4 separate regions of the Homo sapiens genome follow, and all the other regions are linked to region 3. The links come from fine-mapping of genetic effects on gene expression. A gene starts in region 3. Each other region holds a variant in brackets. All regions are shown on one strand. Distances are between the middles of the regions.

Evidence for each region. PIP is the estimated chance that this variant, and not a neighbour inherited with it, causes the effect.
Region 1: its variant is fine-mapped to the expression of C1GALT1 in skeletal muscle (GTEx, PIP 0.94).
Region 2: its variant is fine-mapped to the expression of C1GALT1 in whole blood (GTEx, PIP above 0.99).
Region 4: its variant is fine-mapped to the expression of C1GALT1 in whole blood (TOPMed, PIP above 0.99).

The regions. Positions count from the first base shown.
Region 1 is chr7:7,241,430-7,249,125 of GRCh38, forward strand. C1GALT1 (core 1 synthase, glycoprotein-N-acetylgalactosamine 3-beta-galactosyltransferase 1) reads left to right here. Exons shown (of 4, transcript NM_020156.5): 4 at 2,095-7,187. The coding sequence ends at 2,298. Among named protein-coding and RNA genes, the nearest start is that of LINC03016, 9.9 kb to the right of the region's middle. The variant G/A (reference allele first, on the strand shown) is at 3,486.
Region 2 is chr7:7,226,175-7,233,870 of GRCh38, forward strand. All of the region lies in intron 1 of C1GALT1 (core 1 synthase, glycoprotein-N-acetylgalactosamine 3-beta-galactosyltransferase 1), which reads left to right. Among named protein-coding and RNA genes, the nearest start is that of LINC03016, 25 kb to the right of the region's middle. The variant A/T (reference allele first, on the strand shown) is at 3,618.
Region 3 is chr7:7,178,961-7,186,656 of GRCh38, forward strand. C1GALT1 (core 1 synthase, glycoprotein-N-acetylgalactosamine 3-beta-galactosyltransferase 1) reads left to right here and starts at 3,584. Exons shown (of 4, transcript NM_020156.5): 1 at 3,584-3,860. RefSeq lists silencers at 3,324-3,933, 4,154-4,373.
Region 4 is chr7:7,252,769-7,260,464 of GRCh38, forward strand. It overlaps LINC03016 (long intergenic non-protein coding RNA 3016), which reads left to right and starts at 2,386. Exons shown (of 4, transcript NR_108073.1): 1 at 2,386-2,410; 2 at 6,784-6,828. The variant C/G (reference allele first, on the strand shown) is at 3,259.

The DNA of each region.
Region 1 (7,696 bases), 62 kb after region 3:
TTTTAAGTTACTATTCTAAGGGCAAATTAACTCTTCTTTTTTTCTAAGTGTTTTGGCAACTCATTTCTTTATCTTTGCATACAAACTCATTAATTTAGGGACAATAACATCTTTGCCCAGGATTTTTTGTAAGTCACCTTTTAGGTCCTTTGGTCAAGTTTTATAAACTATTTCCATAGGTATGCAATATTTTTGTTACTGTTCTACTTGGGCTTTTAAAGACTTAACTTTTTACTGATATATATGAAAACTTATTTGTTTGATTTTCTTTTTAAGCATCTTTAAAATCTGGCTTTGTAACTGAATTCTCTATTTCTGATGATTCTTCACTTGAGATTCTTGAGTTTTTTTGGGTAACCATAATTGTCTGCTAGCTCTTGTTTTCTAATAATTATAGCTTTTTACTTTTATTGTCTTTTATTGCATAAATGCTTAACAGAATCCTGGCCATCCAGTAAAATATAAATAAATAAGAGCAATATAATTAATGCAGTAAATCTTATCAAAAATATTATTTTACAGAATATAAAAATTGCTTCCAGAGGTCAGCAATTTATAACTATTACTGGTCTAGTCCTTAAGTTTAATATGCACTGGACAGTATAGTAGCCACTAAGTATGTGTGGTTATTGAGCACTTGAAATGTGGCTAGTCCAAATTGAGATATGCTGTAAATAAAATACACACCTAATTTCAAGAAAGGTTTCATTAATCATCGCAAAACTATTGCATGTTAAAACAGTATGATGAACTTTTTCAGTTAAATAAAATGAAATTTCACTTTTTTTTTTTTTTTTTTACATTTTTTATGTGGCTACTATATGGCTTACATATCTGTTGGACAGAGCTAGTTTAGATAATCACAAGTTGACTTATCTGGTTATTTTTCCTATTTGCTTTTATTCTGATATTTCCTAAAGGTGCAAGAGTAGGTTGTCTAAGAATCTACATATCCAGTGTGTGTTTCAAAGGAAAGTTTAGAGATAACAGCAGAGAAAACGCAGTGGACAGTTTGATAATTTTTACACACTGTAAGCTACATACTTCCAAACATAAATTATTAGATTTATTAAATATTCAGTCAATATGAATCTTCTCTTGGAACTTGCCAGACTATCTCCCTCATTCTTTACAAAGATGTCAGATGGAGCCTGAAGTTTTGTTGGAGTCACCTGGATGACACCAACATTCTCCAGATACCAATTCTGACTCTAGGTTGACTGCTTAATTCATCTCTTTTTCTGTCTTCTTAATTTTCTTGCTTTCTTGTTCGTTGTATTGTTGTTGTTTTATTTTAAACTTTGTTCTCATACCAACCCTATTAGGAATTTATGAGAATTACATAACTGGACAAAGGTTTAAATCTGACCTACCTTAGGGCCACCTGATATGATTTTTCAGTCAATAATAGCTAACATTTATTGGGCATTTATTTTAAGCAAAGGGTAATTTACACACATTGTCTCCTTTAAATAACCACCTTTTACAAATGTGGAAATTAAAGCTTATAGAGATTAAATAACTTACTCAAGGTCGTATACTAGCCCACAAAATTTGGGTTCAAACCCAAGTCTAGGTTGAGAGCTTTGTCTCAAATACTGTACTGTTTGGGTTGATACATATATAGATGAAGTGTATTGGGTTGTAGACACCTAATGGGCAAGGCTTTGTAGTCATTGAATGCCCTAGAGGTATGTTTCCGAGTATGAGCCACACAAAAAATTACAGTGAGAAAATGAGGAAGAGAAAGCAGATGTTGGAGAAGGAGATTTCTCCTTGTATAGCTGCTCCTTTGATTTGAAGAAATCTCAGTAATTTTATCCGCTAAAGAGTGTGAGAGAATATTGTTTCATTTAAAAATACTTTCCACAGTTTCACTTGGTTTCACCAATTTCAATTGGTTTTAAATCATTAGGATGTCTAAGTAAACTATTGATTTCTTCCACAGGTCTAGTACATTAGGTTCCTCTGCTTTACCTTGCCATCTTTAATGTTTGTATTCTTTTAAAATTAGCTGGTCCTTTATAAGTATGTAAATATTGTAGCTAGCAATGTGCTGTTTATTAACAATACCTGTTTCCACTACTTTTTTAGGGTCCTGGTTGCTGCTCTGATCTTGCAGTTTCTTTTCACTATGTTGATTCTACAACCATGTATGAGTTAGAATACCTCGTTTATCATCTTCGTCCATATGGTTATTTATACAGATATCAACCTACCTTACCTGAACGTATACTAAAGGAAATTAGTCAAGCAAACAAAAATGAAGATACAAAAGTGAAGTTAGGAAATCCTTGAAAGAAAATCATGAATGAACAAAGGTAATATGTCTAGCACTGCACTGAAAAAGGACTTCTGCATTTCTGACATAGAACACTGGAATCCCAGTGAGGAATTCTAAGTGAACATTCCTTATAGAAACCTTTCACATGAATGACTATAAACTGAAGCTTTAAATGAGCTGTGAAGTGTGTTAAAATGTGTTTTGATACAGTAATATATAAATATGTCTATATATATGAGGAACTTGTGTTTTTTAAATGGTGGCCAGGTAGAGGAACTAGAAAAGAGATTTTGTTGCCTGTTTTCTGACCATCTGTGTTATTGTCACTGAGAAACTAAAATAGTAAATTTACTAAAACTACACTGCACCATGTTAGTAATAAACAGATCTGCCTTAAAGAAAAGAAAATTTTAGAAAGAAATATTGTTGCTCAGTGTTGTTAATATAGCTCAAGAATTGAGTTTATATTTGCAGTATGCTATAAATGATACCCCCCTACCACACCCACACACACAGTTTTTGTCTAATGAAAATGTTGCTGTGATTATTTATAATTGGTAGTATTTCTTCCAGAAGAAGCTAAAATAAGACTGGCACTTACCCTGAAGTGCATTAATAAAACCACACTTTAAAATTATCATGGGCCTTGACTATATTATATACTTGATTCTAATTAGTCATCTTTTACGCAATCTCTGTTGTCTCTTTTCTAAATGTGTTTAGCCACTCTTGAATACCATTCTCCACTATTAACATTAATTTACTCAAACCGTTCATAGCATTCTGTAAACATGTATTTTACATATTTGTTCCCAAATTTGCCCATTGTTCATTATGGGTAACTAATAATAAATTTAATGCTGTTTCAGGATGCTTTTCTTATAACAGTGCCACTCTCAGGAATTACTAAGTGACATTTTAAATTGATATTTTAAACTCTTTCCAACTACATAGTTATGGTTTATTTCATTCTCATCCTGTTGGGATGAGAACTTGTTTGTGCCTTTCATAACTTGTTTAAAGCAGAGTTTTAAAATTAGTTTATAGGATCTGAGGTGGCTATTAGTTACAGTGGCAAGATTATTTAGAAAGCAAGATTTTGATGAGAATTAAAAACAATAGAAAATGTAGAGTGCTTAAACAAAAATGTTATATTTTGAAAGAGTAGATACTTAATTTATAAATAACAGTCTGAAGGTTG[G/A]TGCTATTTTGGGATAATTGTTTTGCTAATGGATAATTCTAACAATGCAGAATACCTAGTCAAGACTGTCATCAAAAACATTCACAAATGTTTCATTCTATTTTTAGTGACTCTGTTTAAAGAGTTTCTGAAAGGAAAGAAATTTTTTATTTTTATTATCTTTAGCAGTACTGAGTGTCATAGCAGAATATTTTACAGACTTTCTATGAGATTATTTTTATGGTACAAAGTATTTACATTTCCCTCATGTTTATCATTATGCCAATTTTACATGGCAGTCATGCCACTGACTCTGCTATTTAGCTAAGTAATTTCTTTTTTCGGAGACTGTCTCACTCTGTCTCCCAGGCTGGACTGCAGTGGTGCGATTCTCCTGCCTCAGCCTCCCGAGTAGCGGGGATTACAGGCACGCGCTGCCACGCCCCGCCAGTTTTCATATTTTTAGTAGAGACAGGGTTTTGCCGTGTTGGCCAGGCTGGTCTTGAACTCCTGACCTCAGGTGATCCACCCACCTTGGCATCCCAAAGTGCTGGGATTACGAGCGTGAGTCACAGCACCCGGCTAAGTAATTTCTATTTATTGTGCCAAAACATGTCAAAATCATGACCTCTTTGAATGGTATATTTGAGAGGATGTTCATTTCATTGGTTAACCATGGACTACTCTGTCCACGTAGTGAAAACATGCACCAGTTTTTACCTATTATCATGGTAGTATCATCTGCCAAAATTTCAAGGCATTCATTTTATTCTTTGAACAACTCTTCACCATGGTGTGGACATGAATTTTCATATGTGTTACTTGACTAGAAGTATAAATGGTTTACTATAGATATCCAAAAACCTTGAGATTTGCTCATAGGAAATGAATATTGTGATGAATCCTGGGCTCTAGAGTCAGACTTGCTTGGGTTTAAATTCTTGCTCTAACACTTACTGTTTTTGTAACCTTGAGCAATTTTAATCTCTCTGTGTCTCAATTTCCTCATCTTTTAATTAGGGATGATAATACTACCTACCTCACAGGATTTTTATGAGGATTAAATAAATGTAAGGTTTTTAGAACATTGATAGGGAGCAATAAATAGAAGATTGTATTATTATTCTGTTACCTTGGAGTGTAAGTACTGCATTTAAGTGAATGAAAAATTTGCTTTGACCAGATACTGAAGGAAATAAGTAATAGCTAGTATTTATCCAATGCCAACTGTATGCTAGGTACTGTGCTTAGATAATCTGTGTATAATAGTGTTAATCCTCAAAATTTGGGTGTTATACCCCTATTATAGATAAGGAAACTGAGGCTCAGAGACAAAGTAACTTTGTCACTGTCACAAAGCTAGTAAGTAACAGAGGTAGGATTTATATTCAAAACCCTGTGTGTTCATTGGAACCGTATCAGGCTTGGGGCTATTCATGTAGCATTATTTCCATTTTTATGTATATGATATATGACGTCTGATGCATTGGCCAGTAATAGTCAAATTAACCCAGCCAAATTGTCACAGTGATTCTTAAACTGTGGTTCTCACACTTGCCCAGGATGTTGTTAAATGCAGATCTGAAGACCCCAATCTCAGAAATTCAAATTTAAGCATGGGGCCCAAGAGTATGCATTCTTACCAGATACCTTGGGCAGTGACTGTCAAAAGTCTGGTCCCAACAAACAGCATTAACGTCACCTGGGAACTTGTTGGAAATGCAGCCTCTCTCGGGGCCTCATCTCAGATCAGATCTACTAAATCAGATACTCTAGGGGCAGGGGCAGGGGCAGGGGCTAGCAGTTGTGTTTAAGCAAACTCTGCAGGTGTCTTTCTTATCCTAGTTTGAGAACCAATACCCAACAACCTACGTGATTTTGGTGCAAGTAGTGTTTGAAACACACTGAAGATTACTGCCCAATTACTAAGACATTTTTCAAAAAGCATGTTTTAAATCAGTGTAGTCCAGGATCACACTATATTAAATATAAAGATAACTTAAAGGATCATTGGATCATTCATTTTGGCCAAATTTTTAGCTTCTCCAAAGTGACTAACATCAGGGCCTACAATAAAATCTGTAATTCTCCAAGTTTAGTAATTTTATATTGAGGCAGGAAGGGCTCATTAAGTACTAATAAGTACATAATTTATTAAAAACATACATAAGTGTCATCAAAAAGGTCCACAATTGTTAGTAAAAAAAATTAAATTGAAGTAGTAAATGCTGTTTTATAACATACATTTTTCTGCTAATTCATTCTGTTTTGTGTGACCTAATAAAGCAAAAGAAAAATAAAAAAGCAATTCTCCAAGTACTTCATAGAGCACATAAAACCAGATTTCATGATGATGATGTATTCACTATCTTTTAGATTAAGATCTTTGTTATTTGGTAAATGATTTCAGTATGGTTTTAAAACATAAGGCTTTTGATGTCTTATGTTCTCTAATAATGGTATGCTTGTATTTTCTAGTGGGAAGTTCATAGATAAAGCAGATTTTTGTCCCAGTTTGCTTTCAAATATAAATTTCAGAGGGCTTTTTCTTACTGTAATGAGGTATGAAAATAAATCATTGATCAGCTCTTAATATTTTTTGAATACAGAATTGGATTTGAGCAGTAAATTTGCTAACTGGTTATTTTCACAATTTTCTTGAATATTAATTTTTCACTTCTTTGAGACTGTCAAACTATAGTTACTACCAGGTTGATGCACTGTACTTGAAAGAATCCCTTGATTAAATTACATCTAGCATTTTATTTGCCATTTCAATTTTCAGTTCATTAGACTATAATTCTTTGACAGTTTCTGCCTGGTGTTTATTGCCCTTCTTTGTTTGCTTTATTACTAACTTCCATTTTCTAGTTACTCTTAAATGCTGCCTTCACAAGGTTAATTTGGCTGTTAATAGTGATTAGAATTTTTATCACTTAATTGATAATTTTAAGCCTACTAACTAGGGTTCCCTATGAAATTGAAAGTAAAAGTCTAAGAATAATGCCTGCTGGCTCTCGAGATACTTGCCCTACTTAAAAATCTATAATTTAAAATTAATTCTATGTCTACAATTATTAAAGGAAGTAAAGTTATTTGGGTTCTTCCACTCACCCTTTTCTCAAAAACAACAACAAAAAACAAAACTCATTTTATTTTTCTACTTTATAGTAGGCCTGACAGAAACATAGTGAAGCAATCTGGGAGGCAACCTGTGGTAGATTTTATGCTAAATGTTAATGTAACCTCTGTTGATTTTTTAAAAATGTGTTTATATATAAGATTTGAAATAAAAACTTTAATACAGGCTAGAATAAGGAATTTTACAAATTCTCTTTAGAGCAACCAACATTAAAGTTTTAGAGTTGAATTTTGCTCTATTTCAACTCCCTTACCTCTCTAGTTTTCAGTTTATATTAAGTTTTAATAACTTTGCGGGGCCCTGCAAATTAATAATCTACATGAAGTATATTATTAGAGGGAAACTAATCTTACTGCTAAGCAGTGTGTTGTACTACATAGTGAATGTTCGTGTTTTGGAATTTAAAAATTATTTAAGGTAATGGTGTTACGAATGGTTTAAAAATGTCTGGTGACTTGCTTATTTTTAAGTGATCACCATTAAGTCAGAAAAATGTATTTTTAAATGTTTCTTGAAGTGCCTTTTGAACATTTTTAAACAGCGGATTTAAATAATGCATAAAATAAATTGCCATGTTCAAAGTTGTTTCATCTGATTATTTTTAACCAATATAAAAGTTGTGAGATAAATGTTGTCTTTTATGGGTAGTTTGGGGTTATTTTTCCAAAAGTTTAAAATTGTTTTCCCATCAAAGCTATTTAGTTTGAATTGGCTTTCATAAGTTTTACTGCAATATATGTATTATTTACTTTAAAGCAACAAAATATTCCACCTCTGACTGAGAATAATATACTGTAAAAAAATTAGAAACACTGTAGTCTAGGTAAGTGTGTCTAGATGGGTGGGGGTGGAAGAGGGGAGAGAATCTCATATATTTAGAGAGAGATTGCTTCTGTGCTCCTTGGTATATTTTGATCTATCTCATACACTGAGAAATTAGTTTATTCAACAAATACTTATGCCAGGCATCTGCTAGAAATACAGTGGTGAGCAAGACATACAGGATGTCTTAATTCTAGAGTTAGAAAATAAGCTAGTAGATGAATAAACAAAGTATTTCATAGAGTGGTATTAGGAAAATAAAAATATT
Region 2 (7,696 bases), 47 kb after region 3:
AAGATTTATATCACTTTCATAAGGAAAATCTTTTGGGAAAATATAAAGATGTATCAAAAATTATTTTAATATGGTTAGAAGAGGGAATATATTTTGAATACATAAATGCAGCAAATGAATGCCATAATCCAGAGCAAAATTAGAAGTACCTGATTGTCACCTTGGCAAAATGTGGTATAAAGTGTTAAAATTTAAAAAAAAAAATAACTAGAATTTCAGGGCTTTATTGTGAATTACACTCACTGACTTCCCGAAAGCCTGAAAGGAAGAAGACGTGCGCTCATGGTAAAGGGCATTAAAATCTTGGTGAAAGAATATTCTTGAACTGGTGGAGTGGCTGAAAACCAAGCATAAGAGAAGAGGTTAAAGGCTGTATCCTCAGAATTCTCTGGCACCCATGTAAGAAGACCATGGAGTAATATTTACAAAGTTCTTAGGGAGAAGAAAGTTTGTGCAATAGCAGACATTCTGAAGCCTGCAAGAATTTCAGATGTGGCACCGATTAGCGCCATTAAAAAAAACTGCTTGCTGAAACCCAGCTAACAAAAACATGATATTAATGAAAAACTCAAATTTAGAGGAGTTGTGATTAAAAAGGACTCTTGTTGAGCATGGAATCTAGTTTAATGTAGATCCAGGATTAAGCAGTCATGGAATTACAGTTCATAATTCATATAATGTAAACTATGTACATTTTTACCAAATAAAAGCAGTTAACAAAAATTGGTTGTGGCAGAGGGAGTGTGTGTGTATGTATATGTGTATATATATATTTGTACATGTGTGTATCCATGCTGATTTCCACATTTCACAGCAAGAAATCAATAGATAGTGCCTAAAATTGAGCTTATTTAATGAGCCCTCCAACTCCTTTCTGTTTTTTTGTAAACTTTTCTTAATTTTTAGAGGGATCCTTTAGAGGATGGGGGTCATATTACAGATGTCTAGGTGACATTCAGATTTTTTAGATTCCTTTATTTCCTATAAATTCAAATAAATCTAATATGTTAATTCTTTAAAAACGAGATGACTAATATAATTCCCATTCTGTAAAACTGTAGGGTTATGGTTTGAATATTTGTCCCCTCTAAAACTCATGTTGAAATTTAATTCCCAGTTTGGCAATATTAACAAGGCCTTTAAGGAAGTGATTGGTTTATGAGACAGACCTCTGCCCTCATGAATGGTTTAATCCATTAATGGGTTAATAACTTAATGGGTTATCATGGGAAGGGAACTGTTTTGGCTTTATAAAGAAAGGGAAGGCCGGGCGCGGTGGCTCACGCCTGTAATCCCAGCACTTTGGGAGGCCGAGGCGGGCGGATCACGAGGTCGGGAGATCGAGACCATCCCGGCTAAAACGGTGAAACCCCGTCTCTACTAAAAACACAAAAAATTAGCCGGGCGTAGTGGCGGGCGCCTGTAGTCCCAGCTACTTGGGAGGCTGAGGCAGGAGAATGGCGTGAACCCGGGAGGCGGAGCTTGCAGTGAGCCGAGATCCCGCCACTGCACTCCAGCCTGGGCAACAGAGCGAGACTCCGTCTCAAAAAAAAAAAAAAAAGGGAAGAGGAACAAACCTAAGCTAACACGTTAGCATGCGTATCCCTCATGCCATGTGATGCTCTGTGCCACCTCAAGACTCTTCAGAGGAGAGTCCTCAACAGCAAGAAGGCTCTTACCAGATGTGCCCCCTTTGGCCTTGGACTTTCTAGCCTCCGTAACTGTAAGAAATAAATGCTTTCTCTTTATAAATTACCCAGTTTCAGTTGTTCTGTTATAAATACCAGAAAATGGACTAAGACATAATAGCAAAGTGGTTAAGAGTCTGAATTCCTGATTCAGATTGCTAGTGTGACTCTCTGTGTCTGAATTCATCTGTAAATGGGAATACTAGTCCGTACTTTATAGTTTGCAGATGCTCTTAGTACAGGGTTCAAATGTTAACTGTAATTACCTCTCCTATTTTTGTTATTGCTAGAGAGAAACCTGTAATGATAATCACAAAATATTAATAATTGTTGTTTCTGGGTAGTAGGACTTGTGATGATTTCTTCCTTCTAAATCCTTTTTTAACAATGAATAGCATAAAGCTGTCCCTTTAAAAATAAAATTAAAATATAAATTTTAGTTGTCCCGGGAGTTCTTTTGTATCTGAAACCTCAGTTGTCAAGCTTGGAAATCTGTACTTTTAAAATATCCTCAAGCGATTCTGATTACACATCAGGTTTGGAAGCACTTGGCATAAAGAACTTCCCCCACCCAATTCAAAGAAATAGTATTTAAGCCCTCATAATGTGCAGTGTGGTTAAGCTGTGTCTTTTTCCAGTCTAGTCTACCTCAACACTCTTGTGGACATGATTTTTGCCAAAAATCTGAGTGAGCTTTGGGATGCATTCTACCCCCATGAGATGGCTATTTTATCCCAGGAGCAGGAAAAAAAAAAATGGGAGTTTACAGTTATTTAGTCATAAGGCCGGAGTCCTTTAAATTGGAAGGGAATGTGGTAAACACAACACAAGAGGAGCCAACACATTCTGAGTGTGCTGATACTCTGGGGGAGAAGAGTAAGAGAGTATGACAGGCATCAGACAGCATCACAAAACATTTTAAAGTTAAAAACAATTACGTAACACCAAGAAGTCAGTTTTCCTTACATTCACTCCAGGATAGATGCCTTGCTTAAAAAGTGCCTCTTCAGCTAAGAAAAACTGTGTCCATAAGTACTTCAGTAGCTTTCCACAAACAGTAACTGTTTTTGTGTTATAGAAGTAGGCTTGTTCTGAAGCTCAGCATGTCCTTGGAATATGATTGAGTAGCATGTTAGTATTCATAGTTGATGGAGCTGGGTTAGCACTTCTTTAACTTCAGATATCCATATGATGATAGAAATAGGAATTTTCTCTGGTCCTGCAGTCCTTCCTCTTCTCAGTCACAGTGCTTTCTGCCTAAGTGGTACTGAATGGCATTGTGACTACTGCTTTCTTCTCCAGTGCCAGGAGCGGTAGACTCTGCAGCAGTAAAATACTGTCTTTGTTCTTTTCTGAGATGGTGAAGTGGCTGTGTATGGTATTAAGGCAAAATCACAGCTAGGACAAAAAGCAATGGAAAACCAAGATCAGTGTGCTGTAAGGCAAAGTGTTAGTGAGAGAATCAGAGGATGTAGAGAGTGACAACTCAGTATCTGCTAATGCTCCAGGTTCACTGCTTCAATCGTATTCTGCTTGTCTTCCTCCATAAGAAATTAAGAGTTAAAACATCTTTCATTTACTTCTCTTGGCTTCATGTTTTCAATTCATGGTACTTTCATATCACATACCTCTATTGTAGATTGTCTTGATCATGTATACTGCTAAAGGAAGGACTTGTATAATATCGAACAGATACTTGACTAATCAGTTCTCTCTGGCTGTTTGAATGAAATTTCAAACCAAGATTTCTGGTTAGAGCAAGGTCTAATGAACTGGTCCTCAGACAATCGAGATATTTAGAATTTCAGAACAATCACTTAAGACAGGAGGGATATGTTTTATTGTATCTTTTGGATATAAAGATTACACTAACGGCCAACCTGAATGAGGGAAAGGGGGCAGTAGGGAGGCAGAATTTGAGACCCCCTC[A/T]TCAGAGAAAACAGCAGAAAGACATGGTAAACTTGTTTCTGGTTTTCCTGTGGCAAATTTGATTGGGTGTAGAGAGAAGGATCGTTGAGTGGGGCTATGTACTCATCATCCATGAAGGCCTACCTTTCTGAACTTGAAGGTACAGTCAGGATAGAGCAAAAGGTGTAAACATGTATCTGATAGTTTCAGATGGTTAATTTACATCTCAAGATACTGGGCAGCTTTGCTTATACTGTGCTGTTCCTTCACCTCTCCTCTTCCTCTTAGGGTTTTTCTTCCCAAACTGGAATTACAATTCAGGAGAGAGCCTGAAATATAAGATATATAATGCAGCATAAGCATGGTGTGTTGTCATGGCATGTCAATTTTACTTGTAGATTTTGGGATATTTTTATATCAAATATGAATATATTAAGTATGTACTTAATGGGATAAAGACACATGAATGGGTTTTTGTATACACTTTTTACTGAAATAAATGTTAATACAGAAAAGTATGTAAAATCATAAATGTAGAGCTTAATGAATGTCACAGAGAACAAGCCATGTAACTACTAGTTTTTTTTGTGGTATCAATAAGCTTTCCTTTAATTACTGTTTGTATGGTATATTTTTCTATTATTTTGCTTTCAACTTTATAAATCTATTTAATATGTGTCTCTTGTAAGCTGCATGTAGATGAGTTTATTTTTCTCGAGTCTGGCTGGCAATCTTTATTTTTTAATTGTAGTTTTTAGTCTATTTGCTTTTAATATAATCATTGATATGTTTGGTTCTAAATCAACCACCTTACTATTTATTTTCTATTTGTCTCATCTATTCTATATTCCCTTTTTTTTTTTTTTTTTAACATTGCCTTGATTTGGGGTATTTTCCCATTTCATTTTTTTGTATTTGAATTTAATTATATTGTTTTACTGTTTGTTTGTTTAAAGATTATATTAGACATCCTTGGTCTTTTAAAGGCTATTATTAATCAGTTTTTTTTTTTTAAACAACTCCTGGACAGTGAAATGACTTTAGAGCTCTTAAACTCTATGGATCCTCCTTATACTTTTTGATGCCAGTTTTGTAATTTGTTTTAATGGTAATAATACTAATATCTTGTGAGACTTTCAAAAAATGTTTTATTATAGCCAATATTTATTTGGATTTACTTACATACATACCCTTTTTATGACTCTCCCTTCCTTCCTACATCTCTGAATTTTTATCTGAAATTCTTTTCCTTCTGCCTGAAGAATTAGAAATAGAACTGTTAGTGATAAATTCACTTAGGTTTTGTTTTTCTGAACATGTTTTTAAGGCTCATTCTTGAAGGACATTTTTGCTGGATACAGAATGCTAGGTTGGTAGTTCTGTTCTTTTAGCACTTTAAAAATAGTTCACTGCAGTCTTGATTCTGTTGTTGCTGCTAAAAAGTCAGCTGTCAATCTTATTACACCTTTGAAGTTTTTTTTTCTGTCCTTGGTTTTCAGTAGTTTGACTGATGTACTTAGGTAACATTTTCTTTTTCTTTGTAATCTTCATTGGGTTTTGTAGATTTTTAATGTGAGGGTTGGTACTGTGTCAGTTTCGGAAAATATTCAGTCATTATTTCTTTAAATACCACTTCTCCTGAGTTATGTCTCTTCCCTCAAAGGTTCCAGTTAACACTTACATTAGACCCTTTCACTTTATTCTGTTTTTTTGCTCAATTCTTTTTCAATCCATTTGTTTTTCCATACTTCATTCTGCGTATTTTCTTCTGACCTAGCTTTTTAGGTTATTAATTTTTTTCTTCAGCTGTGACTATTCTATGCCTAATTTCTTAATCTTGCCATTTAATTTCTTGACTTTATTAAGAATAGTTATTTCTAAGCTAAAAATATGAAAATCTTATTTGAGTCTTTTGGCTCTGTTTCTATTGTCTACTTTTTTGTGTTTAGCCGTAATTTTCATCTTGATGCCTGGTTGTTTTGGACATTGTGTATCAAAATTTTGTCCATGTTGTATACCAAAAAAAAAAAAGTCGTCATGATAATTTGAGGTTCTTCATGATTTTATATTTCTCCAGGAGAATATTTTTACAGTTAGGCTAGGGCGGATCATCCAGTCAGTGGCTGAGATGACTCTAACGTAGACTTCAGCCGTTGTAAAGATTGGTCTATTTTTGTTTTGTTCTTATTCTCAGATTGTAGCCTTTCAGAGTCCTTGATAAGAGCATAGGTGTTTTTCAGGACCTCTTCTCCTAAGCAGACTTTGGACATTAATTTTTGCTTAGCTTTATTGCCCTTGCTGTTTTCTCTTTCAGAATCAGTCATTGTCTTGAGGATAGAGCAGTGCCAGATGTCTGGTCTGCCTCTTTCCTTCCTTCTTCCAGATTTTGGCCCTACTAATTCTCACTGCCTTGATATCTTACCAGTGTCTTCAAACACATATTTATATTTTTTTACATTTTGTTCAGTTTTTCTGATTGCACTTGGTTGTACTAAAAGAACCTAGTCAGCCATTCCAGAAATACATGAAGTTGTTTTGTTTTTATTATTGTAGTGGTGATTGTTGGTTTGTACTTTTGCTTTCACAAACTATTTCAAAGCAATTTTGATTTTTAGGGTTATATTTCCCAGACCTCTACTTTCACTGCCCATTGCCCTCTGCTGTTAGTGGTGATTAGGTGAAGAGTTTGAGAAATGTAATGGAAAGGGCGTGGGTTTTTTTTTTTTGTTTTTTTTTTTTTGAGACAGAGTCTTGCTCTGTCACCCAGGCTGTAATACAGTGGCATGATCTCGGTCCTGCAGTCCTGCCTCCCAGGTTCTAGTGATTCTTTTGCCTCAGTCTCCCAGGTAGCTGGGATTACAGGCACGTACCACAACGCCTGGCTAATTTTTGTATTTTTAGTAGAGATGGGGTTTCACCATGTTGGCCAGGCTGGTCTTGAACTCCTGACCTCAGGTGATCCACCCGCCTTGGCCTCCCAAAGTGCTAGGATTACAGGCGTGAGCCACCACGCCCAGCCGGGCATGGGCTTTTTAAGCACACAGACCTACATTCAAACTGTGGCTCCTTCTGATTGTGTCAGCCTATATGAATTAATTACCTGTTTAAAATTACCTTTTTAAAATTTCTCTTTCCTCATCTGCAGACGGGTTTAGTGAGAATGAAAAAGGACATTGAAATTAAATTTTATTTAAAATGAAATAATGTATGGACAGCTTCTGGTATATAATAAATGCTTAGTAAACTTATTTTTTTAATTATCTTGAGGAATAGGAAACTAGAGTTAAGACCAATCTTTTAAGGAATTTAATAGAAGTTTATAACTTCACCATATAGTAATTGTTAACAAAAGCTTAAAAAGGGCGTTTATGTCAATGTTTGGTTGTGGGGCAGTTCAACAGGCATCTGTGTCCCAGGTACCCTACTTAATCTCGTTAATATTATAGATTCCATCCAAAATCTAGATCTTGCAGTATAGAGCAGAGGTCAGCAAACTTTTTCTTTTTTTTTTCTGAGATAGTTTCACTCTTTTGCCCAGGCTGGAGTTGAGTGGTGCAGTCTTGGCACACTGCAACCTCCGCCTTCTGAGTTCAAGTGATTCTCCCACCTTATTCTTACCAATTCTTCCCAAGTATTCACCTTATTCTTCCCAAGTAGCTGTGACTGCAGGCATATGCCACCATGCCCAGCTAATTTTTTACCATGTTGTCCAGGCTGGTCTCAAGCTCCTGACTTCAAGTGATCCACCCGCCTTGGCCTCCCAGAGTGCTGGGATTACAGGCATGAGCCACTGTGCCTAGCCAGCAAACTTTTTCTATAAAGGGCTAGGTACGGTTTTGTGAGACATATTGCCTCTATTGTAGCTATTCACTCTGCTGTTTTAGGGCAAAAGTAGCCGCAGTCAGTATATAAATGAATGGGCATGGGTGTGTTCAAATAAAACTCTATTTACAAAAACAGGTAGCAGGCCAGGTTTGGTCCATGGGTCCTCAAACTGTGCTGACCCTAGTCCTCCACAAGCTACAAGTGTTTTTTTACGTTTATAAAGGATTGTTTAAGAAGAAGATGCAACAGAAACCACATGAGACCCAAAAAGCCAA
Region 3 (7,696 bases):
AGGTTACAGTCAAGATGTTGACCATGATGCATGCAATCATTTGAAGGCCTGAAGGGTTGGAGGATCTGCTTCCAAGCTCACTCACATGGCTCTTGTCAGAAGGCCTCAATACCTCACCGGTTGTTGGCTAGAAGCCTTAATTACTCACCATGTGAGCCTCCTTATAAGTTGCCTGAGTGACCTTATGACTCTGACATAACAGCTACCTGGCCCCAACAAGTAATCCTAGAGAAAGAATAAAAAGTCTGGCATGTTTTATAGTCTCCCCTCAGAAGTCACATTACATCATTTCCACTACATTCTATTCATGAGAACAAGTCATTTAATACAGTCCAAACTCAAGGTGAGGGGAATGAAGTTTGACCCTTTGAAGGAAGAAGTATCAAATAATTTGTGAACATATTTTAATACTACCATATGAGTTAATAAAATTTAATACACGAAATTTAACTTAATTATTATAAACTGGTGTTAATATATTTGTAAAATGTAGGTATTTAAAGGGAAACTAAGTCTATTAAAGAAGACAATGTTTTAATGTTGTTGCTAGCTTGTTTGCATTTTCTGTCACCATTTTCACCTCATTCTGTCTATTAAAAAATTCTATATATAGTGCTAAATAAATGATGACTTGGCCTATCTTATTATGTCAACTAAGAATTGCATTTGATACTTACAACAGACAATAACAAAATCTTATATAGAAGGGATATAATCTTCCTCACCTAACAACAAATCCAGAAGTGGATAGTCCAGACCTGGTAAGTTGGCCCTCCAAAGCAACCATGGACCTAGGCACCTCTGGTGTCCTACACTATTAATAGTGTCTGTGTGGCTTTTGTTATTATGGGTGAAATATGGCTGTTCTACCTCCAGTATCATGTCCCTGTTTCAGGTTCAAAAAAAAAAAAAAAAAAGGGATGGGTGCATATCAAATGGCTAAAGCGATATTTCTTCCATAAAGCTTTCCTTGAGTCTCCTCTACAGAAATTCACTTTTATTTAATTGATGGTCACATGGCCAGCCATGACTTATGAAAGTCTAGGGGCATGAATATTTTTAACTGGCCACATTGTCACCCTGAAGAAATCAGAGTTCTACTAGTAAAGAAGAAAGGATTTTGGTTTAGACAACTAGTAATGTCTACCGACCTACTCCAACGAGTTTTGACATGCATTATTAAACACTAGACACAAGAGAAACAACAATACTGAGGTTTATGTGTGTTTCAAGTATGTTTCAAATGGGAGAATCTGGTCAGTTTTGAGTCCCACATATAAAGTATATTTTTCAAAGTAACCACAATTTTTATTCTCTAATTGAAAATGTCGAAGAATTGGCTGACATTAATGTCACTTCTAGGAATGTGTTCAAGGAGATAATTGCACAATTGTGCAAAAGCCTATGGATAAGAATGTTCATCAGAGACTTTTTTTATGGTAGTAAAAACTTGGAAACATAAATGTCAATCAATAGAATACTGGTTGGATAAATGATGGTATATCCATTTAACAGACAGTATGCAACTTTTAAAAATGATGTTATTCATGACTGTTGTTCACTGTGCAGATAATACGATCCAATTTATGAAATATTGTATTTATATGTCTATATGTGCTTTTATTCTTAGAGAGATGCCTAGAAGAATGTAACACAAAATTTAAGAAATGGTTATCTCTATATTATGGTATTTGGACAGATTTTAACTTCTTTGCATTTTTGTTTAAATTTTTTAAATTTGTTTGCATAAGCATGTATTGTTTTTATAAAACAATAGTTATTAGCTGGGTGCCACAGCCTGTGCCTGTAATCCCAACTACTGGGGAGGCTAAGGCGGGAAGATTGCTTCAGCCTTCAGCCCAGTTATTCGAGGCTGTTGTGTGCCAAGATCACACCTGTGAATAGCCACTGCATTCCAGCCTGGGCAACATAGAAAGACCATATCTCTTCAAAAAAAAAAAAAAGCTATTTTCAAAGAAAGGCAGGGTGGGGGCAGGGCTGATTTGGTCCAGTATTGTTTCTAGCAAGTAATTTTCCAGGATAAGGCTGTGGCTGACCTTATTTTAGGAAAGGGTTCTAATCTTTGCTCAATGGAAAAAAGTGTTATTCTTTATTAATTATAACTTTTAATAAAATTAAAACGAGATAAGGAGTTGTGAGTTTTGGTTTCTATTTGGAACACTGACCCCTGAAAGAGTTCTCCTTCCATGTTTCACAATGGATGGCAAGACATTGCGGAAAGGTGGAAGGATGTTGCGGAAAGGTGGAAGGATATTGCGGAAAGGTGGAAGGATATTGCGGAAAGGTGGAGGGGGAGGAGGCTGAGCAACAACTGTATACAAGTTGGGGAGGAGTAGAGAATGGACGTAATCATGTAAGGCAGAGAAGTCTGGACCCATGAGCCAAGGAAAGAGCAATAACCTGGACATCAGGATAGCTGCACTTCTCTTCTAACATGGACCTATCAGTTTATCTTTCTGGCCTTAGTTTTGTCATCTGAAAAATGAGACATCTGTATTAGAATCACTACATGTGCTTTATGTTTCACAATTCTTTTGGATATATTGATGCAATGTCCTGAGAAACTACACTACAGCTGAACCTAAGCAAATTAAAGGAAAAATAACAATAACTAATGTATATTATTATTTGTCTCAGGCATTCTAAGTAACTTGCCAATAGGTGGAGGGACCAAGATGCCAGCCCGGGCAGTCTGATTTCAGAGCCCATACTCTTTAACAACCATGCTGTAGAGTACTAAAGAACCGCTTGGATAGGGCATTTAAAGGAAGCAGGGTAGCTTTCCTATTCTGGAACGTGGTCTTGTAGATAATGGTTAACGCCAGTAAAGACTAAACCTTACCCTCACCTCATGACTATTGTGGGGTTGCCTCAACAGGTGGCAGCCTCCTCCCCCTATTCCAAAGACAACTTCCTTATTCAGAGCCCAGCGAAAGGGGAGATAGGTTTTGTTACGCCCCTAAGAAGCTCTTCCGGCCATTGCCCCACAGAACCGAAGTGCTGACAGAACCAAAGACGAAATGTGCCTATAGAAAGCTTTCTGGTATCATTATCTCGGTTCTCAGCTCTTCCTGGTTCTCACATGATGACCCAGCACCCGTATGCATACTTCATCTTATTACTTCCTTTTATTAAGCCCAGAGAGATACTGAGTAAAGAGAGCACGGGGAGAGAACAGAAAAACAAATGAACGGGTTAAGAGCAGGCTACAGGCCACAAGAGTCCTGCAGGGTTAGAGCCTGTACCTCAGACAAAGGTCCTTCAAGCATCCCCTTTCTCGCTCCCTATTGTTACCCTGCTTTCGTCCCGCTCAAGGTCTTGAAGCTAGTGCATAACCTTACAGCAGGATCAGAAATGCGGAGAGTAGCAGACACAAGCCGCAAGGGGGATACAACAAAATCTACTGCTCGTGCAAGATCCGACTTCCCAGACCCCTTCGCATTAGGGCGGAGCGTGCACCCGGCAGCCAATCCCCGCTTCCTCACGTCGCCGTATCCCCGCCCACCGCCCCTCCCGCTCCGCCCTTCCCTGGGGCTGGTGCGGCGGCGGAGACGTCAGCGCCAGGAGACTTCGGGTGGCGGCTGCGCCATAGGCGGGCCACGGCCTGGACGCGCTGCGGGGAGGGGCGGAGCGAGCGGGCGGGAGCGCGCGCTGGGCCCGCCTTGGCCGCCGCCGCTGTGCTGCCGCTGCCGGGGAATAATCTGGGCGGCAGCGGGCGGCCTCGGCTAGCGGCCACGAGCCACTTCTGCGGCTGCCCAGAGAAGCAAAGGTCACCAGTCCCAAGTCGTCCCCCTCTCCGCCCCCCAGGAGGGGCGAGAGGGAGCCGCAGCTGATGTCAGGTATGGCCGGCGGAGGCGCCCTCAGGCTACGGGTCCAAGGTCTCGTCTCCCCTCGCCCTCCCCCCTCTCCGGGTTGGTGGGGAAGCGTGGAGGATGGAACCAAACCCCGGGCGCGGCGGAACAGGTGTCTCGGGGTCAAAGCCGGGCTGGGGTCGTCCGGGCTCCTGAGGAAGGCGCGAGGACTTCCCGCTCCCGGAGCCTTAGCGATCTGCCACAGCGTTCGGCTGCGTACCCGGCCTCAATTTTGTGGACATGTACCCTCCTCTTCGTCGTGGGTCCTTCCCTTGTGCCCGCTCGCGCCCCTCTTCTGCTCGCGCGCTGCCTGGCGGCGCGGCGGGGCGCGCAGTGCGCCCGGACCGGACCACTTAGCGGTCCTGCCCCGCCGGGCCCTCCCAGTCCCTCCTCCCGGGCCCTCCCCGCCCCGCCGCAGACCTGTGGGTCCCGCCGGACTGGGCGCCCAGGTGTTGGGCACCTTCGCCGGGGAGCCACTCGGCTGCCGCGCCGCCTGAGCGCCCAGCGAGCGGGCTCCTTCCAGAGGTGCCTGGAGCTTGCTTGGGTCTAGCTTGGATCATCAGGTTTGTCTGTAGCTGATTTATTTCTTTAAGTTTCCCTGCCGCAGAGTGAAGCAGATACGTGTGTGTTGGGGCATTCGGGGCATGGAGGAGGAAGAAAGGCATTAAATTTTTTTTTTTTGCTTCTGCACCCCATTTTTCCCCAACAAATTGTGATGGAATTAGTAGGTGTTGACAAGTTGTCCATTTGCTTTGAATTTGGGTAAGTCGTACACTCTTAAAAGATGACCATAATTTAGCGCTGTGGATTTATTCTTTCCTGGTCCTTACCGTCTCCCCACCCCCCACCACCCCGCATTTAAAGCAAACAACAGTATCAGCAACAAAAAACCCACACATCCTGGAAAAATTCTCAAGATTTCTAACCTAGTTCTCTATATCCATTGTACATACTACTGTATTTCCTTTTAACGCTTTTTTAAGATAGAAAACTATTGTGCTAACCATGGATTGATTTCATTATGAATTTAAAAGTTATAAATTTAGAACCATAATGAATCAATGAATAATTGGCCGATGTGTAAGGGAGAGAAATATGTTAACTTACTAAAAGTTGGGCATAGAACATAGCTCTGCCAGGAAAAAGTGCGCATAATTTCAAGTTGCTTCATTCTGGTGTGAGTTTGGGAAGTTGGAATCCGAGTTTTTAGAAGGTATTTAGATGACAGCTTTTCACCCTCTTAGGTAAATGGCAGTTGAGCTTAATGCCCATGATGCTGTATGTTCTAAATATTGTATATAGTACACTATACTTTCTACCAGTCTTTATATATAGATGTACAGTTTAAGTGAATATAAAGTTTCAAGTTAGCAAACAGTTAACTCTTCACCTTATGGTAAGTGAAACAATGACTTAGTAAGGAAAGTATGACTCATTTAAAATTCTTCATAAAGAGAATAATTTTTCAGTATTAGTGGAGAGCTACTAAATGCCTCTCAAATTTGCCTGGAATGTGTATTTTTTTGTATCTTCCTACTTAGGATTAAGCATTTTAGAAATATTTTGTGTTTCCTATTTAAAGTTTTTCATAATTATGCTTTTTAAGACTAGACTACGTTGAGTAAATTCAATATCCAGTTATTCTTAAAATTGTATCACAAATTTATTTCAGGGTACACATAATGAGTTCTTGTTTACCTAATAGAAATATGAAAAAGTATGTCACTAGGCACATGCTACTATTTGTGTATTGATTTGTGCTAAAATTAAAATTGCATTATGCAGTTTAACATTATAAGCCATGGTAATTTAGAGTCTTTGTGTGGTAAAATCATTGATTGGAATTTTTGTGACAGTGCAGCTATAAATAAACCTTAAGTAGAAAATGGAAAGCTTGATGCTGAAATTAAATTCAGATAGGCTTAAAAGTTTAAGCTTCCCAATACAACCATCTTTTCTTTTAGAAGATTTCTTAAGATTTGATTAAAGACGCTGATGTACAAACTATAGCAAGGCTGAAAGAAAGGTATGACAAAAATCTTTTTACTTCAAATTCAGTGGGATTAAGTCATTCTTTTAAAAGAAGAAAGGTGGGGAGCGGGAAGGAGACTTGTTCCATAAAATGAGAAGTTAGCCTTTTATCTTAAAATCTGGTTAGAGAGGAACTCCAATGTGTACTTAAATTATTTTGCAGCTAATTCAAATGTCCAAGGGGAATATATATGCCAAAATCTGTAATATGTGAGAATAGGAAGAGGGAGAAAAAAAATATATAAAGAAACTGGTGTTTGTGATTTAGGGAAGCACATAAGAAGGTGGGGGAAACTGAAAGGAAAGTCTAAATAAATTATCTAGCACCTGTAGTATGTGCTGCCTTGCACATTGAAGGGGCGTGTTGGGGGCAACGAGAGGCAATATTAGGGAGATTCTGGAATGGGAAACCTGTATATTAAAGCACATTTAAACGGCTAGATGTTGGATAATAGGCAGAATTTGAAATTAAATACAGCTTGGCATAGTTATTTGCATTCTTGGTCATTGTATTTTCTAGGGCTGCGGTAACAAAATACGACAAACTGGGTGATTTAAAACAACAGATTTATTGTCTCAGTTCTGGAGGCAAGATGTCTGAAATCAAGATGTAGGTATGGCCATGCTCTCTCAAGGTTCGAGGGGAGAATCTGTTCCATGCCTCTTAGCTTGTTGTGTTACTGCCAATCCTTAGCATTTTTTGGCTTGCAGCTATGTCACTCCAGTCTGTGACTCTGTTATCACAACATAATCCCTGTGTGGCTCTGTCTTCAGATGGTGTGCTCCACTTCTTGCAAGGATACTAGTCGTATTGGATTAAGATCCACCCTAATCACCTCATCTTAACTTGATTACATCTGCAAAGACCCTATTTTGAAATAAGGTCACGTGCAGAGGTACTGGAATTAGGACTTCAACCTATCTTTTGTGGGGACACAGTTTAACCTGTAACAGTTGCACGGTTTATCTTTTACATCGTTCAGTAAATGTTTAGCATTATAGACTGAATCAGAGGCTATAGTGGAAACAGGATGGGACACTTACATTTATTTACATATATCAGTGATGTCTTAATCTGTTTTCTGTTGCCTCTAGCAGAATATCTGAAACTGGATAATCTATAAAGAAAAGAAATTTATTCCTTACAGTTAGGAAGGCTGAAAAGTCCTGGTTCAGGGGGCCACATCTGGTGAGGGCATTTGCTGGTAGGGACTCTGCAGAGTCCTGAGGATAGCACAGGGCACCACATGGTGAGGGGGCCGAGCATGCTAGCCCAGAACTCTTTCTTTCTTTCTTTCTTTCTTGTAAAGCTACCAGTTCCTTTCCCATGATAACCCATTCATGAGGGCTGAACCCTTAGTACCCAGTCACCATTTAAAGACTCCAGCTCTCAATACTGCCACAGTGGTGATTAAGGTTCAACATGAGTTTTGGAGGAGACAAACATTCAGACCACAGCAAGTGCTTACTATGTGCCAGGTCCTGGAGATAAAACAGTGGATAGGCAAAAATCTCTGTCCTCATGGAGCTTACATTCTGAAACACGGGTTCTAAAAATGTGGTCCCTGGATCTGCAGCATCATCATCACCTGGGAAGTTGTTAGAAATTGAAATTTTCAGGCTCCATCCCAGAACTCTTTATTTAACTAGCCTTCCAAATGATTCTGATGGAGACTCAGGTTTCAGAACCACTGATCAAGATGGAAAAGAGACAGTAAACAAGATGAATAAGTAAAATAATATTTGATATTAATAGGTGCTGTGGGTAAGCATAGGGTGGCCAGTGAAGACTC
Region 4 (7,696 bases), 74 kb after region 3:
GCAGAGTGAAGCAAACTCTACCAGATTCTTGGGGGAGGAAGAAGCCAAGTGATTTCAAATGGAAGGGTAAATTGAAAGAGTGAGGGTGGACACTTCTTGAAAAATCTAGATGATGAAGCCCATCTAAAGAGATAAATGGACAAACATTGAGAACAGGACTGGTGGTGGTTAATTATTTAACTATGTAGCTATAGAATTATTTAAATAAGGCTATGGAAGCATATTGAAATGTTATAAATCTTGATATAGAAAAGATGATTAACAAGTTAGAAAATAGAATATCAAAGACGAGGTAATATATACATGCCCTAATTGGTTTTACTTTTCAGAATAGAAATTTTGTAAAATTGATAATATATCAAGAAATAGGGATGTAATATTCTGAATAGTTATGAAGGTAATCACCAAAACTGTAAGCCTGATAACTATTAAAATGAAAACACAAAATTAAAGATAACACAGGCCATATAAGAGAGCTAAAGGGAGAATTTACAATAGATGACAGAATTAAGACCAAACATAGATATGATGTCAAATAAGGAAAAATATGATTTAACTTATAAATGTATGAATATACAAAAACTGTTGGCAGTACCTTTGGGGAAGGGTACTAGGATTGGAAAGAAATTCAATAATTCACTGTTTTCCTTTTTGAACTTTTAAAAAATCATGTTTATACTGTCACAGTTTAGAGAAGTAAAGTGGGAAAAAAAAGCTGTTGGCCCTGGCTCCCTAGGGTTTTTACAACCAGTGGTGAAGAATGTCCACAGACATTCTTAAGCAGCAGTAGAGGTAAGCAGGTACACACATGAGCTGGAAAGATCTCAAAGCTGATTTGGATTCTTTTATCTTGCCATAAGAAATTACTTTCTTCAATCAAGGGTATAAAGACTGCTGAACTAGTTCATAATGAGGGTAGATGAAGGAGGTATCCATCTTCAAGAGTGGTAAATAGTTGACCCATACAAAGGACCAGCAGCCTCATGTGGACCCGTCTTAGCATCCTTCTCTCCTTCTACTCCAAGGGTGAAGAGTACTCGGAAGTTACTATTTATTCTCAAATCCTTGTGTCAGATTATTTTCATATCTTTCTTAGATCTGTTCTGGCTTAAGTCTTATTCTCTTATTCATGGAAATAGAAGACACTGAGCCCTTTCCCACATAAAAATATAGGACTACTGATTTCTAGAGCTTAAAGATGTTCTAACGCCTCGTTTGAAAGATTCAGAAACAGATCTAGAGATGTTAAAGTTTAGAAAAATGACACAAATAATGCCAGAAGTGGCAACAGAACTCAATTTTCCTGACTCCCAGGTTAGTGGTCTTTGTACTAAATGCAATTTCTTATCTTCCCTGAACAACCTGAGCTATGTACTTTAACAAAATTTTTTGTGGGTACATAGTAGGTGTACGTATTTATAGGGTTCATGAGACACTTTGATACAGCCATGCAACAAGTAATAATCACATCATAGAAAATGGAGTATCCATCCCCTCAAATATTTATCCTTTGTGTTACAAACAATCCAATTATACTCTTTTAGTTATTTTTAAATACACAATTAAATTATTGACTATAGTCACCCTATTGTGCTATCAAATACTAGATCTTATTCATTCTTTCTGTTTTTCTTTGACCCATTGTACTGCTAGATAGAACTCACATATTTGGTCCCTGCCTTTTCCCACCATTTGCAAATAGATTCTAGGAACGATCCTAATAGTTGCCAGGCACTGTTATCAGAGATCAAATCTGTCTTGTTTCCAATTGTGCCTGGGACATAATAGGATTTTTTTTTTTAAATAACAAAGCCATGTGTAGTGCTGCATGCCTGTTGTCCTAGCTACCCAGAAGGCTGAAGCTCAGGAGTTCAAGTCCACCCTGGGCAACAAGACTCCATCTCCACAACAAAAAAGTTTAAAAAGGTTACTATACGATTACTATACATTGTATGTATCAAAATATTACTCTCTCCCCCATAAATATGTACATTATATATCAATTAAAAGGAAGTAAATGGTGAGCATCCTTTCACTATGAAGAAAAGTTCTCCATATGCCCCCTACTTTCTTCTGTTTCATTTTTATGGAGACCTCTAAACAAAATGCTTTTCTCATAGATATGGAGGGACTCCTAAACAGGTTTTCTGCTTGAGAAAATCTTGATTTGAACTCCACGTATCATACACCATCAGGCAAAAAACCTCGCATTTACGTTGGAGAATACAGTCCAGAAAAAGAACAAAACCTCAAGTGTGGGCAGAAGATTGTGTGTATTTGCTATTAGGGAGGAGAGCTCAGGTTCCTTTTCTCTACAGTGACCATTAGACATTCCAAAGCACTGTCACTTGGTGTAGCTCAGTGCTCTTGGTTACTGAAGCAACAAGTGATCTCTGATGACAAAACAAAGGTAGGGTCGTGCCTAACACTGGTAAGGAGAAAACTGTGTCGAGTTAGTTAATAATTAATTTACATGTCAAGTTACAAGTTTTCTATCCTAAAATCCAAAAAAAGCAACAGCTCTTTTTTTTCCTCCAGTCATTAAATCACCCATTCAACAAACTTTCACCAGGCTCATGGTTTGTCAGCTATAGAAGAGAAAGGAGGGCGAAACCTGTGGTTAAGGCTTGCCTGAAGGATCTCACATTTGGGTTGGGGGCTGACATGCCAGTGAACAAATAGCCTCCTCAGGACTATGATAGAGGTATTTACAAAGAACTATAAGAGGACTGTATATTAAGTGTTTAGGGATCTGAGAAGTTTCAAAGAAATTGTGGCATTTGAACTGGATTTAAAGAATAAGGCTCAGGTACAACTTCATGTGAAAGAGTCGATATATTCACAAATTTGCCAAAGCCCAGTTAACTTCAATTCTTCGAGAGTTCCAGTTTTTTCCCAGGTGCAGTCAGTGTACCATTTTTTTCTGAGACCCACAGCCATTTTCTTTCATTGGCATGTTTTTAGGTTTATTTTTCAATAACTCCAGTACCCCTGAAATTTCCTTCCTTAGATCTTGAATAAATATATTCAAGTTGGGCATTACTGCATGGTTTGAGGATAATGTCTTTCCTGTTAAAAATATTTTTAAGTTTTTATACAAAGGTAATGTATGTGCTTGGTAAAAGAGAATGAATATAAAATGAAAAGCTATAATCTGCTACAGCCCCACCCAGCAGTCCCTTTGTCCAGCCATAAACAGAAAATAACAGAACTGTACTCATTTCCAAACTAAACACATCATTCTGCTCCTTGCCTTTT[C/G]TGCTTACTGTTTAATAACTTAGAGATAATTCTTTTTAATAGTTAACTAGATCTCTGTATGGATGTGCCACAATTTTTAAGCCATTCCTCTATTGATAATTGAGTTGGATACTTTTATTATAATTATTGCTGCACTGAACATCCTTGAAATGATTGTGTGGGTACAGCCATAGGATAAGTTCCTAGCAAGTAATTGCTGAGATAAAGAATGTATGCATTTAAATATTCATAGATACTGCCAAATTGCCTTCTTAAACTGTACTGTACTACCTTATACTACTACTCAACATTTGCGAGTATATTTTCCTGCCCCTTTTACCAAAGTTTTTGATTATTGAACTTACTAGTTTTATCACTGCATTAATATCTGATAATTGTTGATTTGTACTTAAGGTTTGAGTTTTTTTTATACATTGGTAATTTGCATTTCATCTTCGCCAGTTTTTAATATTGAATTACTAGGGTTTTTAAAAATTTTTATAAACTCTCTGAATATTGGTTTATTTATATGTATTAGAACTGTTATGATTATTTCGTACTTGTTTTTTCCCCACACAAACCAATTAATCTTTTCTTAGGGCTATTGAATTGTGTGTCTTGCTCACACCAAGGTTTATTTATAATATGCTTATGTTTTCCTCTTACTTTCATAGTTTCATTTTTTGTGTTTATATTTTTGATCCCTCCAGAATTTATTTTCTTATATGGAGTGAGGTAGGAAAATGGCTACCCGTTTGTTGTAATACACTTTATTTGACGATCCTTTCTTTCAACATTTATTTTAAATCACCATTACCCCATGATATTTCATTATCGGTTTGTGTATAAACTGTATTCTGGTCTGCTTATCTGCCTATTTCTTGTGCAGTACATTGTTTTAATGATTTCAGATTCATAACACTTAATAACTGACAGAATGAATTACCTACTTAAACATTTCGTACAGACACTGTGGTGGATTCTGCTACATATCATGGCATTATGCCATGAATGCTTTCCAGCATTACTGGCAGAAATAGCCACCCTTAAAATATGCCCCTCGTGATCCTCAGCGGTTCCCAGGGTACAGTGTAATGTGTACCCAGAAATGGGTTGCCCTCTTGCCCATTCCTGGGCTGCCTCCTAGGGACAGTGACTCCAGTTAACTTGCTGCTTCAGTGGGCACTACCATCTTCTGCTGGTGACTTCTGTCATCTTGTTTGACCCTGGGGAAAAGACTTATTTTCCTCTTTGTTGCCCACAGTAGAGACCAGACTTTCCTGACCGTTCCAGAATAATGAAAGAAAGGGTCCAGATAGTACTTTATGAGAGCGGCCAAGCTCCAGTGGAATCCTCTCCACCCTTACCAGGCTACTGCTCTGCCCTCTTTGCTACCTGTTTCCAGGTCACCAAAGGTAGTTCAGCTACCCCACTAGAAACCTTCAGTTATCAGCACTTCTTTAGAATTGGAGCCAAATTGACATCTGCACTAAAAGAAATGAGGAAGGTTTCCACTCACCTAACACTCTGGACACCCTCCTCCCAAAATTCCTGCTGAACCAACCTCTCCCCTGGGAAACTGGCAGTGAAAACATTTAGTCTTTTCAGAGGAAATTACACCTTTACTCAGAGAAACGTGGTCTGGATTTTGGATCTGCAGCCCCAGTAAGAGAATTGCCTAATGATCTGGTATCAGTTAGTACAATCAGGCCCTTCATATCTGTGGGTTCCACATCCATGAATTCAGCCAATCGTGGATCAAAAATATTCAATAAAAAATAATATGACAAAAATATAAACAATACAGTATAACTGTTATTTCCATAGCATTCGTATTAGGTATTATAGAGATGATTTAAAGTATGCAAGAGGATAAGCATAGGTTATATGCAAATACTATACCATTTTATATAAGAGATTTAAACATCCATGGGTTTTGGTATCAGAGGGGGTCCTGGAACCAGTACCCCAAGGATACTGAGGGACGACTGTCTATTTCGCAGTCTGTATTGTTTTTACAAGTGGGGCAGCAACAACCAAACCCAAATGAGGCCGCATCAGGCTCAGCCCTGTTCCTATTTTGTCTCCCTGCACTAAGGGTTTCAAGCATGTCTTAGGGCTGTGGTCAGCTTGTTAACACAAATCAGCCTTGAAACCTAACAGAATGTTACTTTACAATTTCCTGTTACTATGTTCCTTTTTAAAGTAAGCTACTTCCAAATCGATCTTCATCCTTTTCAAAATACCAAATTTCGGAAATGGAAGGGGGAAAGGAATGGGGGAAATACAAAGTGAAATCACCTGTATTTTCTTAGGGACCCTAACTTAGACATGACCAGCTATTTCTGAGATTCTTAAGTAAACTGTTTTTTCTCTCTGAAAGTCTGACAGTCTCTGCCATGTCAAGCTCTTTATTTCATGTCTTATACTTAGACCCACTCAGGCTACTTGGACAAATGCTCAAATAAGTTGACCAAATGAAAAACGTGTTCAGAGGTTGAGTGACTCAGAGTGAGAACAAGTGAAGCAGAACTGAGTGGTGGAACTTAACCTGCGCCTGAAGTTTTGAAACACATCAAGTCTAGTCTTCTGTATTTTAATAATATACAGACTTAGAGGGTGGAAAGAGATAAAGTGTTATGTGCTCATAAAATCAATTTATAAGTGACCTCATAGGGTCAATCACCTCAAGATAATATAAATTCATGATTTAATATATTAATGTAACCTTTGCTATGTATTAATCAGTATAAATTTATAATTCAGTAGTCTACAAATCCTAAACTTAGAGAATATTTTCTGAATTTGCTCTTTGATTACTCCACGTCTCTGCATAGAATTTTCTGACACTCACTCATCAGGATGTGTTTATAAAGGGTTTTCTTTCTTCCTCTTCACATTTAAATGATATAGAATTACCCAAACTTCCTGTTGCTACTGAAACTGAAGCAAGAGAAGCAAGGGAAATTGAAACTGAAAATGTGAACCAGCGACTTTACCCAGAAGCACAGTTGATGGCATCAATGAGATCAATTTTTTAATGAAATTAAAGAAAGTAGAGGTTTCAGCTGACACTGTTTTTCTCCAGACTCTCTACTATGCGGCAGGATGGTAGTTGTTTCCTCTCAACGGAGCTAAAAATTAACTTCATCCTATGGCATGATGTATTAAAATCAGGAGTGTTTGGCCCGGCGTGGTGGCTCACGCGTGTAATCCCAGCACTTTGGGAGGCCGAGGTGGGCGGCTCACGAGGTCAGGATATCACGACCATCCTGGCTAACACGGTGAAACCCCGTCTCTACTAAGAATACAAAAAAAAAAAAAAAAAATTAGCCGGGCGCGGTGGCGGGCGCCTGTAGTCCCAGCTACTCAGGAGGCTGAAGGAGGAGAATGCTGCGAACCTGGGAGGCGGAGCTTGCAGTGAGCCGAGATCGCGCGACTGTGCTCCAACCTGGGCGACAGAGCGAGACTCCGTCTCAAAAAAAAAAATAAATAAAATAAAATCAGGAGTGTTGATGGTAACTTTCTCTTTCCCCTCTCCAACAGGTAATTTCTCTCAAGATCCAACCCAAGCTATTCTATATACACAAGGTCAGCAAACATTTGATTCATTTTGTCAGCTTTAATATAAATCAAAATCACACCCAGGAGGCTGGGGTGTGGTCAAACAGACATCAAATCCCCTATTGCCCTAATAGCCAGTCAGTCACCCCCCTCTTTCATGTGGGAAAGAACACCGGAAGCAATTTGACAAGTAACAATCAGGCTTCTGGAGCCATGGACAATTGCTGTTAACTCTTGACTGTTCTGACAACATTTTAGAGCTATCTTTCAGGAATATTAGCCTCCCCCATTAACAAAACGGGGAAAAGCTCATTCCTCAAGGACCTCACTCTTCATTTAGTTCAACAGTTTGGATGGAGAAGGGAGATGTATCTTGAGGGAACACAAGTACATTGATCCCATTTTCTACCTCACTACATTGCTTGCAGGAAGAGGCCTGCAACTTGGTTCACCCCTTTTTTTTTCTGCTTTAGTATTTTAGTTGGGTCAAAGTAACTAAAGAGTTACTTACTTAAATTGCATATTGCGATCCCCATAATTTCCACTGGGTAAAATTTAGCTATACACTGAAGCTTGCTGTAAACATGCAAGCAAGTTGGGAGAAAATATTACCATTAGAGAAGTGGAAAAAGACCGGCCCCCTTCTCCATCATCACCAATCAGGTGTTGAGTGAAATCTCCCGCTTACTATAACATATTACTCTCACAGAGAATAAACACCGTATCTTTCAGTAAGGATCTCTGACCTGTCATTGTGAAGGGAGGACTAGCCAGACTGAGGGTGTGGTGAGGAACTAGGGGAAGCACAGACAGAAGAAACTGCTTTGAGAGGAGAAGCAACTTTGAAGTGTTGCTTAGTCCAGGCCCTGACCTAGGGTTTGGTTTTTTTGAAGTC